2 separate regions of the Homo sapiens genome follow, and region 1 is linked to region 2. The links come from fine-mapping of genetic effects on gene expression. Tissue or cell type: sigmoid colon. Region 2 holds a variant in brackets; the other region holds the start of a gene. All regions are shown on one strand. Distances are from middle to middle.

Region 1 (8,096 bases), 51 kb before region 2:
ACGCTGTATTATTCCGTTTTCATGCTGTCTATAAACACATGCCTGAGACTGGGCAATTTACAGAAGAAAGAGGCTTATTGGATTTACAGTTCCACATGGCTGGGGAGGCCTCACAATCATAGTGGAAGGCAAGGAGGAACAAGTCACATCTTACATGGAGGGCAATAGCAAAGAGAGAGCTTGTGCAGGGCAACTCCCATTTTTAAAACCATCAGATCTCGTGAGACTCATTCACTATCATCAGAACCGCAGGGGAAAGACCCGCCTCCATGATTCAGTCATCTCCCACTGGGTCCCTCCCACAAGATGTGGGAATTATGGGAGCTATAAGAAGAGATTTGGGTGTGGACATGGAGCCAAACCATATCACATGCCTTGGCCAAGATCAGAGACAGGCACTTTGAAGGAGGAGGGTTGGGGTAGGAGCTTTATGCTCAACAGGTTGGCTAAATATACATATTCAACAGGTGAGAGAAGAAGCTATGAATATTCATGAAAGTGGTCCTGATGCATGTGTATTTAACAAACATGCATGTTACATACAACTCATGTTCATTTTGGGGTGGTTGCAGCATTTAAATGTATTACAATTCAGCCTGATACGTCAAAAGGTCTTTTCAGGACATGAAGGCATGCAAGTGTGCAACCTCTGTAAGTCAGCCAGAACCATCCTATAGTCGGTAGTCTTATCAGGAGAAAGTTACTGAAATCAGTCTCTTGTCCAATCAAGCTGTAGTTATGGCTGGTGGAACAAGGGGTCGGTTAGTCAATATCTGTGATTTGGATGAGTTGTAATTGTTTTAATATTGCATATCTTCAGCCGGGCACGGTGGCTCATGCCTGTAATCCCAGCACTTTGGGAGGCCAAGGCGGGTGGATCATCTCAGGTCAGGAGTTCGAGACCGAGACCAGCCTGGCCAACATGACAAAACCCCATCTCTACTGAAAGTACAAAAATTAGCCGGGGGTGGTGGCATGCACCTGTAATCCCAGCTACCTGAGAGGCTGAGGCAGGAGAATCACTTGAGATCATGCCACTGCACTCCAGTCTGGGTGACAGAGAGGGACTTTGTTTCAAAAAAAAAATTTATATATATATATATGCACATATATACATATCTATATAGATACATAGATACATATACATATCTATATAGATACATAGATACGTATATATGTATATACATATATGTTTGTGTATATATATATATACAGAGAGAGAGAGAGAGAGAGAGAGAGTGAGAGAGAGAGAGAATCACTCTGTTGTCCAGGCTGGAGTGCAGTGGCACGATCTCGGCTCACTGCAACCTCCACCTCCCTGGTTCAAGCAATTCTCCTGCCTCAGCCTCCTGAGTAGCTGGGATTACAGGCACATGCTACCACACCTGGCTAATTTTTGTACTTTTTGTAGAGATGGGGTTTCATCACGTTGGCCAGGCTGGTCTCAAACTCCTGACCTCACATGATCCGCCCGCCTTGGCCTCCCAAAGTGCTGGGATTACAGGTGTGAGCCACTGTGCCCAAGCCATGTTCCCTATCTTCTCTGAGCAGGGCTGGGGAAAACAAAAACAAAAATATTGCTTATCTTCAAGCCAGTGCTTGTTTAGCTGCTGGAGAAAACAAAAACTCTGTGGCAGTTAGAACATAGCTTTTTTCTTTAAGTGTAAGGGTGCGTGACTTAACCCTTCCTGGCATGGCCTTAGATCCTGTTTATAATTTGTTATCGTATTGCCACAAAGAGTCTGTTCTGTCAGTCTTGTGATCTCTGTATTAACATTAAGGCTGCTCAGTTGTGTCTAAACTCTAAAAGGGAGAGGATGTAATGAGGCATATCTGATTTGCCATCCCATCATGGCTGGAAACTAAGTCTTTAAGGTTTTTCTGGGGTCTGCTTGGCCCAGAGGGGGTTCATTCAGTAGGTGGGGGGCATAGGATTTTATTTTTAGTTCACATTCACAAAAACAAAGGGCCAAAAAAGTCTTACTGTGTCACACAGGCTGGAGTGCAGTGGTGCAATCTTGGCTCATTGCAGCCTCCATCTCCCGGGTTCCAGCAATTCTCCTGCCTCAGCCTCCTGGGTAGCTGGGATTACAGGCACCCGCCACCACACCCAGCTAATTTTTGTATTTTTAGTAGAGAGAAGATTTTACCATGTTGGCCAGGCTGGTCTCGAACTCCTCACCTCAGGTAATCCACCCACTTGGGCCTCCCAAAGTGCTAGGATTACAGGCGTGAACTATCATGCCAGGGCTATATGTCTGTGCTTTCTAAACCCAATAAATGTGATGTAATATTAATGCTAACAGCACACGTGATGGGCCAGAAACATTTCTATAAGCCCAGCGGCTCTGGGCATAAATTTCTAGGGATGGTGAACCGAAGAAACAAAATTGTGTCATTGAAATCAGCTTTTCCCAACCACCAGTGTCTTCTCTCTCTCTCTCTTTCTCTCTCAGTGTTCACTTATTACATGGCTACTCTGTGCCAAGCACTGTTGCTAAACACATTATGTACAATTTCTCATTTCATTGGTACTGATTTTGACACTTACTCATCCACTGTCTTTTATCATGATGTGACCATTTCCTACAAAATGCCCTATGTAGCTTCCAACCAAAATACCACAAAGCACAACTTCAGCAGTCCTGCCTCTTGACCTTCTCCCAGGCTCTGCTCTCGCTCATCTGTTCCATCCTTTGCATTGGCAGAAGACCCATCTTTCTAAATGCTTACTCTCTTGGAGCATGTAATTTCTTTCCTAGGAATCACCATTCTCAGCTGCCTGACTCCAAGAATCGTTCTCAGTTTTATCTTCTGATGCTCCTAGACCTCAGCACCTTATTCCAGCCTAACACATCTGGCAACTCACTGTTCCCAGAGCTATTCAACATGCCTTCCACCTCAGGGCTTTACTTGGCCTGTAATGCCCTCTTCCTCTCTTTCTGCCAAAGTAGCTTAATGATTAGGAATATAATTCTGAAGTCCAACCATGGGCAAAGCCAGCTCCTCTGCTGACTTGGTGGATGACCTTGAACTAAATTTCTTCCCTTCTCAGAGCCTCCAATGGACAGTAAAACTAATAACAACACCTCCCTACCTTAGAGGTTGTTGTATAATTAAATGAGATAATATACATAAAGTGCATGGTGCAGTATCTGGTACATAGTAAAGATCAATAACCTGATGTTATCATTGTTGTCGTCACTATTATTATTTCAGACCTTGGTTTCTCCCCACTCTTTCATGAAGCCCTTATCTAACCACTCCAGGTCAAAATCATCTCTCTTTTCTTTGAATTAACTTACTTTTCCTATCACTGATTTGATGACTAGGATTTATTGCCTTAAGCTTTACATCATTCCTTTCCGATTTTATTTCCCCATCTCAGGTAAAAACTCCTGGAAGAAAAGATCCTGCAATTTGGCTTTTTGTGAGATGGAAAAGATTACACCTTGCCCTGCAAACTTCCCCCCTTTAAAGGCGAAGGTTTGTTAGGTTAGTTAGCCTGTGAGAAAACTGTGCGTTCTTAGCAATCAAAGGCCAGACATCTGGGGGTACAGGGGGGAGGAAGACTAGGATAAGAGACTCTAGACGGGGACAGAATTAAAAGGAAAAAAAAATTAAATAAGCCTCCGTCTCCTTTTATCTCCTAGCAGTAGGCAGTAATTTAATAAATAAAGGAGCCCCGTTAGCGTTTTCCCTGTCCATTCTTTCCCAGGCACGGTGACCTAGACAGCAGCAAAAAGCGAGTTAATAGGGAGGGGTTATGTAGGAAGCAAAAGTCAAGGAATGTGGCTACAGCTGATTACAGGAACTGAGAAAGTGGACCAAACAATATTGACTCCCAGCACGCCACCGCGATGTCCATCTTGGGGAATCCGTTGCTGGAAGGGACCCATCTCGCCCACCCTTAGGGGTCGAGGTGGGCGAAGGGGGAGGAGAGGGCTGGCGGGGCGGGGCGGGGTTGCTCCGCCCCCGGAGGCTGGGCTGTGACCAGCAGGCGGCTCCACAGAGCAGCGGGCGCGCTCATAAAGGGCACAGCCGAGGGTACGTGGATCGCGGTGCGGAGACTGAGGTTAGAAGGCACAGGTGGCGAGATGAGCCGGGTACCAGCGTTCCTGAGCGCGGCCGAGGTGGAGGAACACCTCCGCAGCTCCAGCCTCCTCATCCCGCCTCTAGAGACGGCCCTGGCCAACTTCTCCAGCGGTCCCGAAGGAGGGGTCATGCAGCCCGTGCGCACCGTGGTGCCGGTGACCAAGCACAGGGGGTGAGTGAGGAGGGTCGGGGTCAGGGGCAGGAGAAACTGGAAAGCGGGGAAAGGAGGAGCAGGAAGAGGAGGGGTGGGAGAAGGGAAGAGACGGCTTGCCTAACCGTTGCTAACAGCTGCCACTTTTAATAGGCGCTACCCGGTGTGCTAAGTGGGCGTTTTACAGGTGTTACCTTGTTTATTTCAGCACACTCTCCACCTAGGGAGGTATTGATACCACCATTTGATTGGTGGAAAACTGAGACTCAGAGAGGTTAAGTGACTTACCTAAGCTTACACAGCTACTAAGTGGCAGAGCTGGAAAGGTTTTCTGATCCAGAGCCAGACTTCTGAACATACTGTGCATAGTGTCTAAGGGAAGGGCAGAGGGATGCGGGGGCTGGAAGAGGGCCAGTGGGGTGGTGAGGAAGGAAAGAAAAAGGAAAGTATATGGATACTTTCTAAGAGACCCCAGCATTGATGGGAAGGGGCTGAAGCTGCTCCCTCTCTCCTTGTAGCTACCTGGGGGTCATGCCCGCCTACAGTGCTGCAGAGGATGCACTGACCACCAAGTTGGTCACCTTCTACGAGGACCGCGGCATCACCTCGGTCGTCCCTTCCCACCAGGCTACTGTGCTACTCTTTGAGCCCAGCAATGGCACCCTGCTGGCGGTGAGCAACTTCCTGTCCCGGGGTGGAATGGGGCCCCTGGGCCCAGATTGAAGCTCAAAAGTAAGTTCTCCGCAGCAGGGGGAGTCTTGATTGTGACTACGCGTGCCCCTCTGCAAGTGACTGGATACCAGCAACAGTGAAGGTTATCTGTGTCCATGTATCTATTTCTAGGACTGCCTGAGGATGCATAACACGGCACCAGCGCCCACTGCTGCCTCAAGCATGTGACAGTGTGGAAATAATAATCTTGTTGTCATTCTTGCATATGTCCTTGTCCTATACTCAGTTGCCCCAAATACGCAGCTTGAATGAACCCATTAGCCAAGGGAAGACTTACTTACTGAATCCTTGTCGACATGGAAAAGAAGGGGTGTTCTATAATCCCTGGGAGTCTTCAGAGGGGTATACGGTGTGACCTGTTTTAATATCTAATCATAGTTTCAAAAGGTAGCAGTAGCTTGTGTTTATGGAGTACTTTTTATAATGCATCAGGCACTTTTCTAAACATTTCACATTTATTAATCCTCTTAATACTTAAAACTATTCTATGATATGGGTAATATGATTACTCCCACTTTATAGATGAGGAAACCGAGTCAGAGCAACTATGTTCAACTTACCGAGGTTTATGTAACCAACAATTAGCATGGTTGGACTTCAGAGCTGCTCAGTCTAAGTCCACGGTCCATAGGTCCAGACTCTTCTAAGACCACCGCCATTTTAACTGCTACATATTGGGCACTTATGTGCCAAGAAGGAGACGCTGATCACATTCAATTCTGCAAAATTCCTCTATGGGTGTTTTTATTAACTCCCCTTCCCCCCAATTTCTGTTGAGGTCCTTGAGGCTCAGGTTAGTAGAGTCACTTTGCTTGAGGTCACACATCTGGTTAGTGAAAGACTCAAGAATCACTCCCAGGTGTGACAGTTAACTCTTAAGGTCTGTGCGCTCCAAGCTGGGTCTTACAATGTCCCTCCTTTTCCCCTGAATTTCTGGATCGCCAAATAATCTGGCCGTTTAACACTCCTTTGAGAATATCTAGCTTTCCCCAACTTACACTCATCCAACCGAGATGGCATTCATACTACCTGCCAACAGCGGTTCCCTAGGGGGGTAGAACCCAAGGCTTTGAAACTAGATGACAGCTGAATCTGCTCAGTGACTTCGTGATTCACTTCCTCATCTGTAAAATGAGGTTGATGATGCCTATTTTTTGATGATCAGCTGAGATGAATAACAGGGAGAGGAGTGCAGAGGATGGTTTTTACTAGCGAGGCATAATTTTCAACCTTCGCTGTGTATCGGAATCACCTGGGCTGTCTGGGTCTCACTCCTGGAAGAGATACAGACTGGGTTAATCTAAGGGTGGTATCTGAGCATCTTCACGAAGCTTTCCACATGTGCAGCAGGAACGGAGAGCCACTAAGAGTTTCATGGCCGTTGTCCAGATGTCAATTGGCAACCTTCTCTCTCTAGTTCCTTCTTAATTTGGTGTTTTGAGAATCCTAGGGCAAGAAAAGAAAATGGGCAGTTCTTGAGGGCTCACCATGTGCTAGATGTTTCCAGATATGCCAGTGCATTTAATCCTCACAATAACCCTCTGAATGGCTGGCATTATCTTTTTTACAGGTGAGGAAACCAGTGCTTAAAGATTAAAGTGTTTGTTCAAAGTTGCATATCTCGTAAGTGGAGGAATCGGATCCAGGTCTGACGCCAAACCCATGCTGTTTGTAGGATGCTATAAAACTTCCTAAGCTAATATTTTAGAACTGTTTCTTCTAATTTATGCAGTGGACAGGGGTTCCCCTTGCTCACTGTCTCTCTTTTCCTCCAAGGTCATGGATGGAAATGTCATAACTGCAAAGAGAACAGCTGCAGTTTCTGCCATTGCCACCAAGGTAAGATGAATGGCTGGCTGTACCATTAAGGTGAGCTGTCAAGTGGGGTCTGGTGTCTCAATCTTGAGAGACTAAAGGAGAAGTGGGGAACTTATTTTGGTTTCCTGTTGGACATAGCTGGAACTCCAGATGTCAGATATATCAGTAATTCACGAAATTATTAGCTACCAATTAGTGTGCATGACCAGATTTCAAGTACCTTATGTGCATAATTCTCAATCTTCCCATCAGTCTTGAAGAATCGAAATGAGAAATTCTCTCCACCTTCCAGGTCAAGGAATATGGCTCAGAGAGCTTCTGTGAATTGCCCAGGATCACACAGCTAATAAGTGCTAGAGTAAGAATTTAATACTTGACCTCTCTGGCTTCCAGGACTGGCTTCTTGTCCCTGTACCACATTGCCCCTGGTAAGACAGTATAATTGTCCCATAGACCAAAGCTAGTACTACACAAGAGGCTGAGTGAACTGAACATATCCAAGCCAGATCCCTGTATTCATTCGACAAGTATTGACTGGGCTTCTATCATGTGTCAGGCACTGTTCTAAATGTTAGGGAAATGGCAGTGAGAAAAACAGAGGGGCACACACAGGGGAGGTAGACAATACCAATAAAAAGGAAAACACAGGCTGGGTACAGTGGCTCACGCCTGTAATCCCAACATTTTGGGAGGCTGAGGCAGGCGTATCACTTGAGCTCAGGAGTTGGAGACCAGCCTGGTCAACATGGTGAAACCTCGTCTCTTGTAAAAACACAAAAATTAGCTGGTCGTGGTGGTGGGCGCCTATAATCTCAGCTACCCGGGAGAGTGAGGCAGGAGAAACGTTTGAACTCAGGAGGCAGAGGTTGCAATGAGCCCAGATCGAGCCACTGCACTCTAGCCTGGGCAAAAGAGTGAGTGTCTTAAAAAACAAAACAAAAAGGAAACAAAACAAAACAAACAAAAACATCTGTTGAGTTTAATAATGTGTTAAATAGTAATAAATAATATGTAATTAAATAATTAGTACATATTAATAAATGATTAATAGCGTGCTTAGAATTTGCTAAAAAATAAAACCAACAATAATCCAAAAAGCCACATAACATGTTAGGTGAAGATAAAGCAGAAGTGAGAGTATTGGAGAAGCTGTCACATTTTACATTATCCAAGAAAGGCCTCCCTGAGAAGGTGACATTTGAGTCAAAGCTGAAAGCAGTGAGTTAGCGAACCATGCAAAAACACGGAGGGGCACTCCAGGCAGAGGGAACAGTAAGCAATGGGGGTGATGATGTTCCCA
Region 2 (8,107 bases):
CACACAGAATATTTATAAAACCTGACCACTGAATAGAAGCAGTGCAGTTCTCGACAAATAACAAATAACAGGGTTCATGCAAACCGTGTTCTCTGAAGACACTGCAACTAAATTAGAAACCGCCATCCTTACATAACTCATCAACTATGCATATGTTCTCCTGTGGTGTATTTTTTACATTGTTTTCATCAAATACATATAATTTTACATTACATCTTTTCCACTCCTTAATCCATCATAAATATATCCCCATATTGTTACACAATCTTTAATATATTTAGATAATTGTCCACTAAACTGATGTGAGAAATATCTATTTTTGAAGCCTGTAACTGTATATTCCTCTTATCTCTTTTTGTCTAAGTTTTTATTCCAAGATAAATTATTTACCCACTCAGAAAAAGTACAAAGCTTTCATCTACAGTTTCTTCACAATAATAATGAGCTCCAAAGGTCACTGTTTGTTCCTTTTTCTGGCTTCTAGGTGAAGAGCAGTAGAAGCAGCCTGGAGGGCAGCATTATTTAGCTTTTTTTAAACATTGTTTTTAGCCCAGAGAGAGTGACATATCCAAACATGATTATGAATACTGTGAGAAAATGGTAAGGTTCTTCATCAAGTTTTGCATGAGCCACTTTAATTTAGATACAACTGCATTCATTAATGCACTTTGAAATTTAAAAACAGGTCAGGCGAGGTGGCTCACGCCTATAATCCTAGCACTTTGGGAGGCAAAGGTGGGTGAATCACTTGAGGTCGGGAGTTGAAGACCCACTTGGCCAACATGGCAAAACCCCATCTCTACTAAAATACAAAAATTATCTGGGCATGGTGGTGCACACCTGTAAGCCCAGCTACTCATGAGGCTGAGGCAGGAGAATTGATTGAGCCTGGGAGGCTGAGGTTGCAGTGAGCCAAGATCACACCACTGCACTCCAGCCTGGGTGACAGAGTGCAAAAAAAATAAAAAATAAAAATACATATAACCGATAGAGAACTTCTCAAAGATGTATTATTTGTAGTAGAATCCTAAGACTCCAGCCAAAGGGTCTGCTTTCAGAAGATAAGGATGAGGAAGAGGAAGAGAAAGAGAAGAATAGTGGCCACTAGGATGGTCATAAGCCAAATTAGGATGAGGATTGTCAAAGTCAAAATAAAAATTTAGAGCTGAATCTCTAAATTTAATGTTTTATTTGGAAAAAGACTTGCAATTTGGGATACACACATAGACCAGGTGGTCTTCAGTATGTCTGAAGAAGAAAAGAGAAGTTTAGAGGTTTTATTAACAAGAGAAATGTTACATATTGCTCTTCAAGAAAGTTCATTGGCACTAGTAAGGGTTTGGGGAGCTGGCAAGCTCTGATTAGTGGGCAAAATTTGTCCTAGAGTTGCAGCAAGTTATCTCAGCAGCTGTAAATAAAACTGCTCCCGGGTTACAGCAGGCAGTTCCAGCAGTCAGTCTTGCTGAGAATTACGTTCTTGGAGCAATTTTTATTTATTTATTTATTTTTTGTACTCGGAGTGCTTTCTCCCCCAACTCCACCACCCAGCCTCTCAACCCTGATTTAGTTGGGTATAACAAGAATGATGCAATTTGCGTGATTAAGTTTCACAGGATGGAGGCAAAGGGTAAAGAGGACAGAATAATTATAGAGATGGGGAAGAAGGATTGGAGATAGAAGACAAGAAAGAGAAAGAATTTCTCAGTTCCAGCAGTCCTTAGGACTAGAACTTAAAGTCTCCTGTGAAATGGCGAAATAACCAAACTTTCTTAAATGGTAAATATCCTGGCATCCTCTGGCACGCCCTTGGGAAAATTTCCTCCTTGGGAGAAGAATGGGGTGGCAGGGGCAGCGGGGGGTGGGGAAGTGGGGGCAGAGATAAGGATTTAAAACATTTTTCTGAACTTGAAGATCCTCCTTATCCTATCCCTTCAAGGTGAGGTTGGGAAGGAGGGTTGAAGACCTAGCGTTCATATAATCCAGGAAAAGTTACTCCATCTATTTGAGTCTCCATATCCTTGTGGATAAAACTGGGGGATGTTGCTAGTGATCATATCATCATTATCATCAGCATCAACTAACTTTAGTAAAGATGAAGAAATAAAATTTCTTGCAACCCATAAAGCATGTTTTTACAAACTAGAAGTAGTGTGATTGTGGCTTAGGGAACAGACAGAGGAAGTTTTAGCCCAGTAATCATTTTTGAATTCCTCAAAGCCCAAAGGAAACAAAATTGGTGGGAGATGGTAAGGGCAGAAATTAATAAAAAGAGCTAACACGAATTTGCATATAATGTAGACATTAATTCCTTGTGAGGAGTCATGGTAATTGTGGGGGCAGTTGTGGATTTTCTTGACTGTACTGATCTTGTGGAAATTAGTATTTGAGCGTGTTCCATCAGCATACAGCTGGACTCTTGGAAGGCCAGAGAAGAATATTTGCCAGACACACACTGGAGAGACTTTGAGGCTCGGACCTGAGTGGCAGTGACCCCAAGTCAAAGCTCTCATCAACCTTCCTGTTGGAGCCTCGCCATGCTCCTCATATCTCCCCATACTCCTGCACTACTAGTATGTCTCAACTTAGAGAAACATCCTGTCCATGACCTCTGTGTTCCCTTGACTCTGACTGACACTTAGGTTTAGACAGGCAGGTCTTATTTCCTCCTGCACTGTCCTAAAACTCTAGAACCTCAACCTATTATCTGGAACCCCAAGCAGTTGGTTATTTAATGATAAGAAGCCCTTCTCCACAGACACCACTTCTTTTTTGCCAAAGACCCAGAGAAAACATGGTTAATCTGCTTCTAGGGGCAGCACTTGGAGAGATTCTCTCATGAATGGTTCCCCTCCTCCCCCCAGAGCAAGGACATTGTCAGCTTCTCATTGCTGTGTTTATGATTTTGCAGTCTCCCCTAACATCATAACAGCTGACAGTAGCTGACAACTAGGTAGTCTTAAATAGGTGTTCCTTCTACCATGGAGTCCAATCCTGGCCCAGAGGAAGTAGCATTTGGATGAAGAATTTACCTGGAACTCTGACTATCTATAAAACAGAGTCATGTGTGTTCCTTTGCTCAGGGAGAGGAAAAGAAGGGACAGAGATGATGGTAGTTGATACTTCCAGTCTAACTCCAAGAAAAAAACAACACTTGCAAAGTACAAACCAAACTTCTTCCTCATTGTTCTGAAAAACCATTTGCTGCTAATTGGGAAAGAAATTCAATGGCTTGTGCAACCCAGAAACACATATTTTCAGTAATGAGATTGCCCCTGTGTCCTAAGAGATCTGGTTTTCAAAAGCAGCCTGTGTTTGATCTCTAAAGCTATTCATGTCTAATTAGAGAAGAAATTCACTTGTATGGTAGGGAAGCACATTTTTTTTTTTTACATAAGAAGGAAAAAGATCAGAGTAGAACACTGCTTTTAACAAGATTACTTCATCTAATGAGGATCTTATTATGAATTTTAATGAAAATAAAAACAGTAACAAAGTAAGGGAAATTAGAGAGTAATACAAAAGTCCTGTTGTTCCATAGAAAACTTGCAGGAACCAGGCAAGGACAAAAGAAGCCATCAGTAACACACTGCTGTATGCACTGCCCTTGGGTTTATGAGAGACTATCTGTTAAGGTAAAGATGTGCTCAAATATATTATCCAGAAAATGTCACTTACATGTGTATTCTTTTCTCTTTAGCACAATGATACAACTGTTCAACCTATTTGATATGGATTTCTCCTATTCGGAAGAAATTTCAACAACTTCACTTCTAACTTAAACACATTCATCGACTAGCCTGGCCAACATGGTGAAACCCCGTGTCTACTAAAAATACAAAAATTAGCTGGGCGTGGTGGCATATGCCTGTAGTCCCAGCTACTTGGGAGGCTGAGGCAGAAGAATCACTTGAACCTGGGAGGCAGAGGTTGCAGCAAGCCGAGATTGTGCCATTGCACTCCAGCCTGGGCGACAAGAGCAAAACTCCGTCTCAAAAAATAAA[TAAAC/C]AAACACATATAACACTGTCAAAATAAGGAGAAACTTTCTTTCCCACATTGAAAGTCATTGATGTTTTCCTTAAAAGCATTGTATCATGTTTGTATTCTTTAACAATCAAAAAGAATCATTGTCTGCCTTTTTGTTTCTTCTTTTCTAAATGAAAACATTTATAAAAATATTTAAGTGGATAAGTTGCCTATTGAAATTGTAATGTCCCTGAAGTATTGGTTGAGCTTAATTTATTCATATAAGTTTCAAGCCATTCAAAGGCCTATTTTTCTGGCAGAAAACTAAAGACAGAGCTGTTATTGTACCATCTGGTTTGCATGAGGAATCTCTTGGCATCTCTTAACTGCACATTTTATAAATGCTAAATCCCAGATGGCATACATTGTAACAGTGAAGAGTTTTATAAAGGCTTCCAAAAACAAATTCTTTCAAATTTGAATACTGGATAGTCTAAGCAGGGGCTAGGAATTTAAATTCTACACTTGATTAAACTGGCTTTGTTAGCTGAACAAATTTCCCTTTTTTCTTATGTCTTTCCTTCTTCCTAATTATTGGTTCTGTGACTTGAAAATTTCAATCCATGTAATTCTTCTACCAACAGGTCCCCTCTATAACTCAAGTTCTAGAAAAACTGCAGGAACGACAATCATTGGAAAAACCTATGTTAGGTGCCATTTTGTTTCAAAGATGGTAGAATTTACCACAAGGGAGGTGTGTTATAGCATCCATTAGCAGATCATCAAATACCATCAAAACCGTTCAACTCTTACAAAGCTGATGGTTGGATTGGAAAGACAAGCAAATGTAAACTCCAAGCATTGTGTTGAAATAAAGCCAGAGTAGAATAATGATTGAGAACATGGGGTCTGAAGTCAGAGACTGACAGATATTAAGCCCCAGATTGGATCTTCCCATTAAGTTGGGCAAATTACTTCTCCCTAAGCTTTAGTTTCTTCATCAGTAAAATAAAGACAGTACTTTTCTCTTTAAAAGAGAATCATTCACAGGGTTGTTGCAAGTAATTACTGAATATTTGTAAAATACTAAGTACAGTTTATGGTGTGTAGTCAGCACTTAATTAAAGTAAATTAATAGTAGTACTAGCACTAGGAGAAAGAAAGTTTCTCCTTTCTTTAAGTCAATCTATATAAATGCAGCATTTTCTTAAAACTTCTCTTTTCTCTGCATTTTCCTTCTCAATAACAACAGCCGAGACCTAGTTTTGTTTTTTTTTTTTTGTCCTACCCCTTATCATGGTATAATAAAAATAATATATATTTTACAGTCACACAGAATTGAATTTCAATCTGGGGTTTTGTAATAGTTTACTAGGACTTCCATAACAAAGTACCACAGACTGAGTGGCTTAAACAAATTTATTTTCTTACAGTTCTGAAAGCCAGAAATCTGAAATCAAGGTGTGAGCGTGGTTGGTTCCTTTTGAGGGCTGTGAGGAAAGGACCTGTTCCAGGCCTCTCTCCTGGAAAAAGACTTGCAAATGGCCATTTTCTCCTTGTGTCTTCATGTCATCTTCCTCTTCACATGTCTGTGTCCAAATTTTCTCTTCTTATAAGGACACTTGGTCCTTATAAGATGGTCATATTGATTAGAGCACACCCTAATAACTTCATTTAACATCATCACCTCTGTAAAAGCTGTATTAGTCTGTTTTCACACGGCTATAATGAAATACCCGAGACTGGGTAATTTATCAAGGAAAGAGGTTTAATTGACTCACAGTTCCAACATGGCTGGGGAGGCTTCAGGAAACCCAATCCTGGCAAAGGCAAAGGGGAAGCAAGCATCTTCCACACACAGTGGTAGGAGAGAGAATGAAGGAGGAACTTCCAAACACTTATAAAACCATCAAATCTCATAGGAACAAACTCACTATCACTAGAACAGCATGGGGGAAATCACCTCCATGATTCAATCACCTCCCTCCCTCAGCACGTGAGAATTACAATTTGAGATGAGATTTGGATGGGGACACAGAGCCAAACCGTATCAAAGGCTATCTCCAAATACAGTAACATTCTGAGGTGCTGGGAATTAGGACCTCAACATGAATGGTGGGGGAGATATATTTTCAGCCCATAATAGCTTTCTACTACTATCAACTGGAGGAAAATTCACCTCAAGGAGACTTCATTTCATTTTCTTACTCCTATCTGGATTATTTATAAATCAGTGCTTAGCACAAGGTCTATACATTGTGGCCTTGACAAAAACTTTCTTCCCTTCTTCTTAGAAAGACTCATGAACTCACATTGTTTCTGGGAACCACCTACTCTTTCCCAGAACTCTGGATGAAACGTGAACGATGTACATGTGGCTTACAAAACCTGCAGAGGACCAAATGAGGAAGGAGTGGCTTACAGAGCTATGATCAAAGGAGACTTAGCAGGACTCAGCTGTTATTTGAATGGTGGGGGACATTTTATGGAAAAGATGCTTTAAAGATTATACAAAGGTGGCCAGGCATGGTGGCTCACACCTGTAATCCCAGCTCTTTGAGAGGCCGAGGTGGATGTATCACCTGAGGTCAGGGGGTCAAGACCAGCCTGGCCAACATGGTGAAACCCCATCTCTACTAAACATACAAAAATTAGCTGGGTGTGGTGGCACGCACCTGCAGTCCTAGCTACTTGGAGGCTGAGGCAGGAGAATCACTTGAACCCAGGAGACAGAGGTTGCAGTGAGCCAAGGTTGTGCCACTGTACTCCAGCCTGGGCAACAAGAGTGAAACTCTGTCGCAAAAAAATAAAAAAAGATTATACAAAGGTGAGAATCAACTTCTTTAAACACAGGGGAAAAAGTAAAAAGCAGAGATGAGGGGAACCCTGGATTCAATTCCCAGGACTGTCACTAAGTAACTGTAGGACCTAGAGTTATTGTCCCTATCTGCAATCCAGGTTCCTTGCCTCTCATATAAGGAGGTAGCAACCAAATTCTGTATCAGTCAGGTTTCATCAGAGAAGCAGAACCATTCTGAGTGATATAGAATAAAGGGTTTATTGCAGAGATTAAGCTTATACCTGGAAGCCAGGTAAGCTGTCTAGTAAGGCTATTTCTTCTGCACCAGATGTTAGACCCAAAGTCCGTAGGGCCAGCAATTGGGAAGTAAAGATGGAGAGGAAGTAAAGAAAAAGAACAAATTAGAATCTGCAGAGACAAATTGGAACCCCAGAGAATAAAACGAAACCCACGCCTGTCTCTCACCACCCCCAACCTCGACGACACAGGTGTCTACAGGATAAGCTGCCACCTTTCACCATAGACAAAGCTGCAAACGCACCTGGCCTAGGATTCAGAGAAGCTGAAGGGGGAGATCTGGACGGAGTGGGAGGAGCTGCAGGTTCGCCTCCTGCCCCACGCCCACAGGGTGAGCAGCAGCTCAGCCACTATATGCATGGTCTCTCCATGGTTTTGGAAGTTACAGGCTGCTGGTGGATGGGAATAAATATGGCCAGAGATATGTCTTGTTTGGCAGGCACAGGATTTTGAAAATATCTTTAACATTAAATATCAACATTAAAATTGAGGAAATTGAATGGAATCTGGATTTTCAGCTTCCAGATGAGAAACTGAAGATCATGACAATTACCTCTGCCTGAGCTGGGAAGCAGTTCTTTTTTTTCTTTTTTCTTTTTTTTTAAGATGCAGTTTTGCTCTTGTTGCCCAGGCTGGAGTGCAATGGCGCGATCTCAGCTCACTGCAACCTCCGCCTCCTGGGTTCAAGTGATTCTCCTGCCTCAGCCTCCAGAGTACCTGGGATTACAGGCATGCGCCACCATGCCCGGCTAATTTTTTTGTATTTTTAGTAGACAGGAGGTTTCTCCGGGTTGGTCAGGTTAGTCTCGAACTCCCAACCTCAGGGGATCCACCCACCTTGGCCTCCCAAAGTGCTGGGATTACAGGTGTGAGCCGCTGTGCCCAGCCAAAGCAGTTATTTCTTTAGATGCAGCCTGGACTCAACAGTCCACATCACCCCCAGCTGCCCAGAGCTGTAATCCTGACCCTGAGGGCAATAGTTAGTCACTTGCCATTCTCATCACACTAAAGCCATTTCCTTGCACCCAACCGACTTCACTCATGTAC

The links. PIP is the estimated chance that this variant, and not a neighbour inherited with it, causes the effect.
Region 1: CRYM starts here. The variant in region 2 is fine-mapped to the expression of CRYM in sigmoid colon (GTEx, PIP above 0.99). The same link has a PIP of 0.9 or more in putamen.

What each region holds. Positions count from the first base shown.
Region 1 is chr16:21,274,253-21,282,348 of GRCh38, reverse strand. It overlaps CRYM (crystallin mu), which reads left to right and starts at 4,059. Exons shown (of 8, transcript NM_001376256.1): 1 at 4,059-4,267; 2 at 4,765-4,918; 3 at 6,755-6,817. The coding sequence starts at 4,098. RefSeq lists an enhancer at 4,058-4,267.
Region 2 is chr16:21,223,176-21,231,282 of GRCh38, reverse strand. It overlaps LOC105371123 (a long non-coding RNA gene), which reads left to right. Exons shown (of 2, transcript XR_001752344.2): 2 at 3,698-4,519. Among named protein-coding and RNA genes, the nearest start is that of ANKS4B, 6.5 kb to the left of the region's middle. RefSeq lists an enhancer at 8,074-8,107. The variant TAAAC/C (reference allele first, on the strand shown) is at 4,002.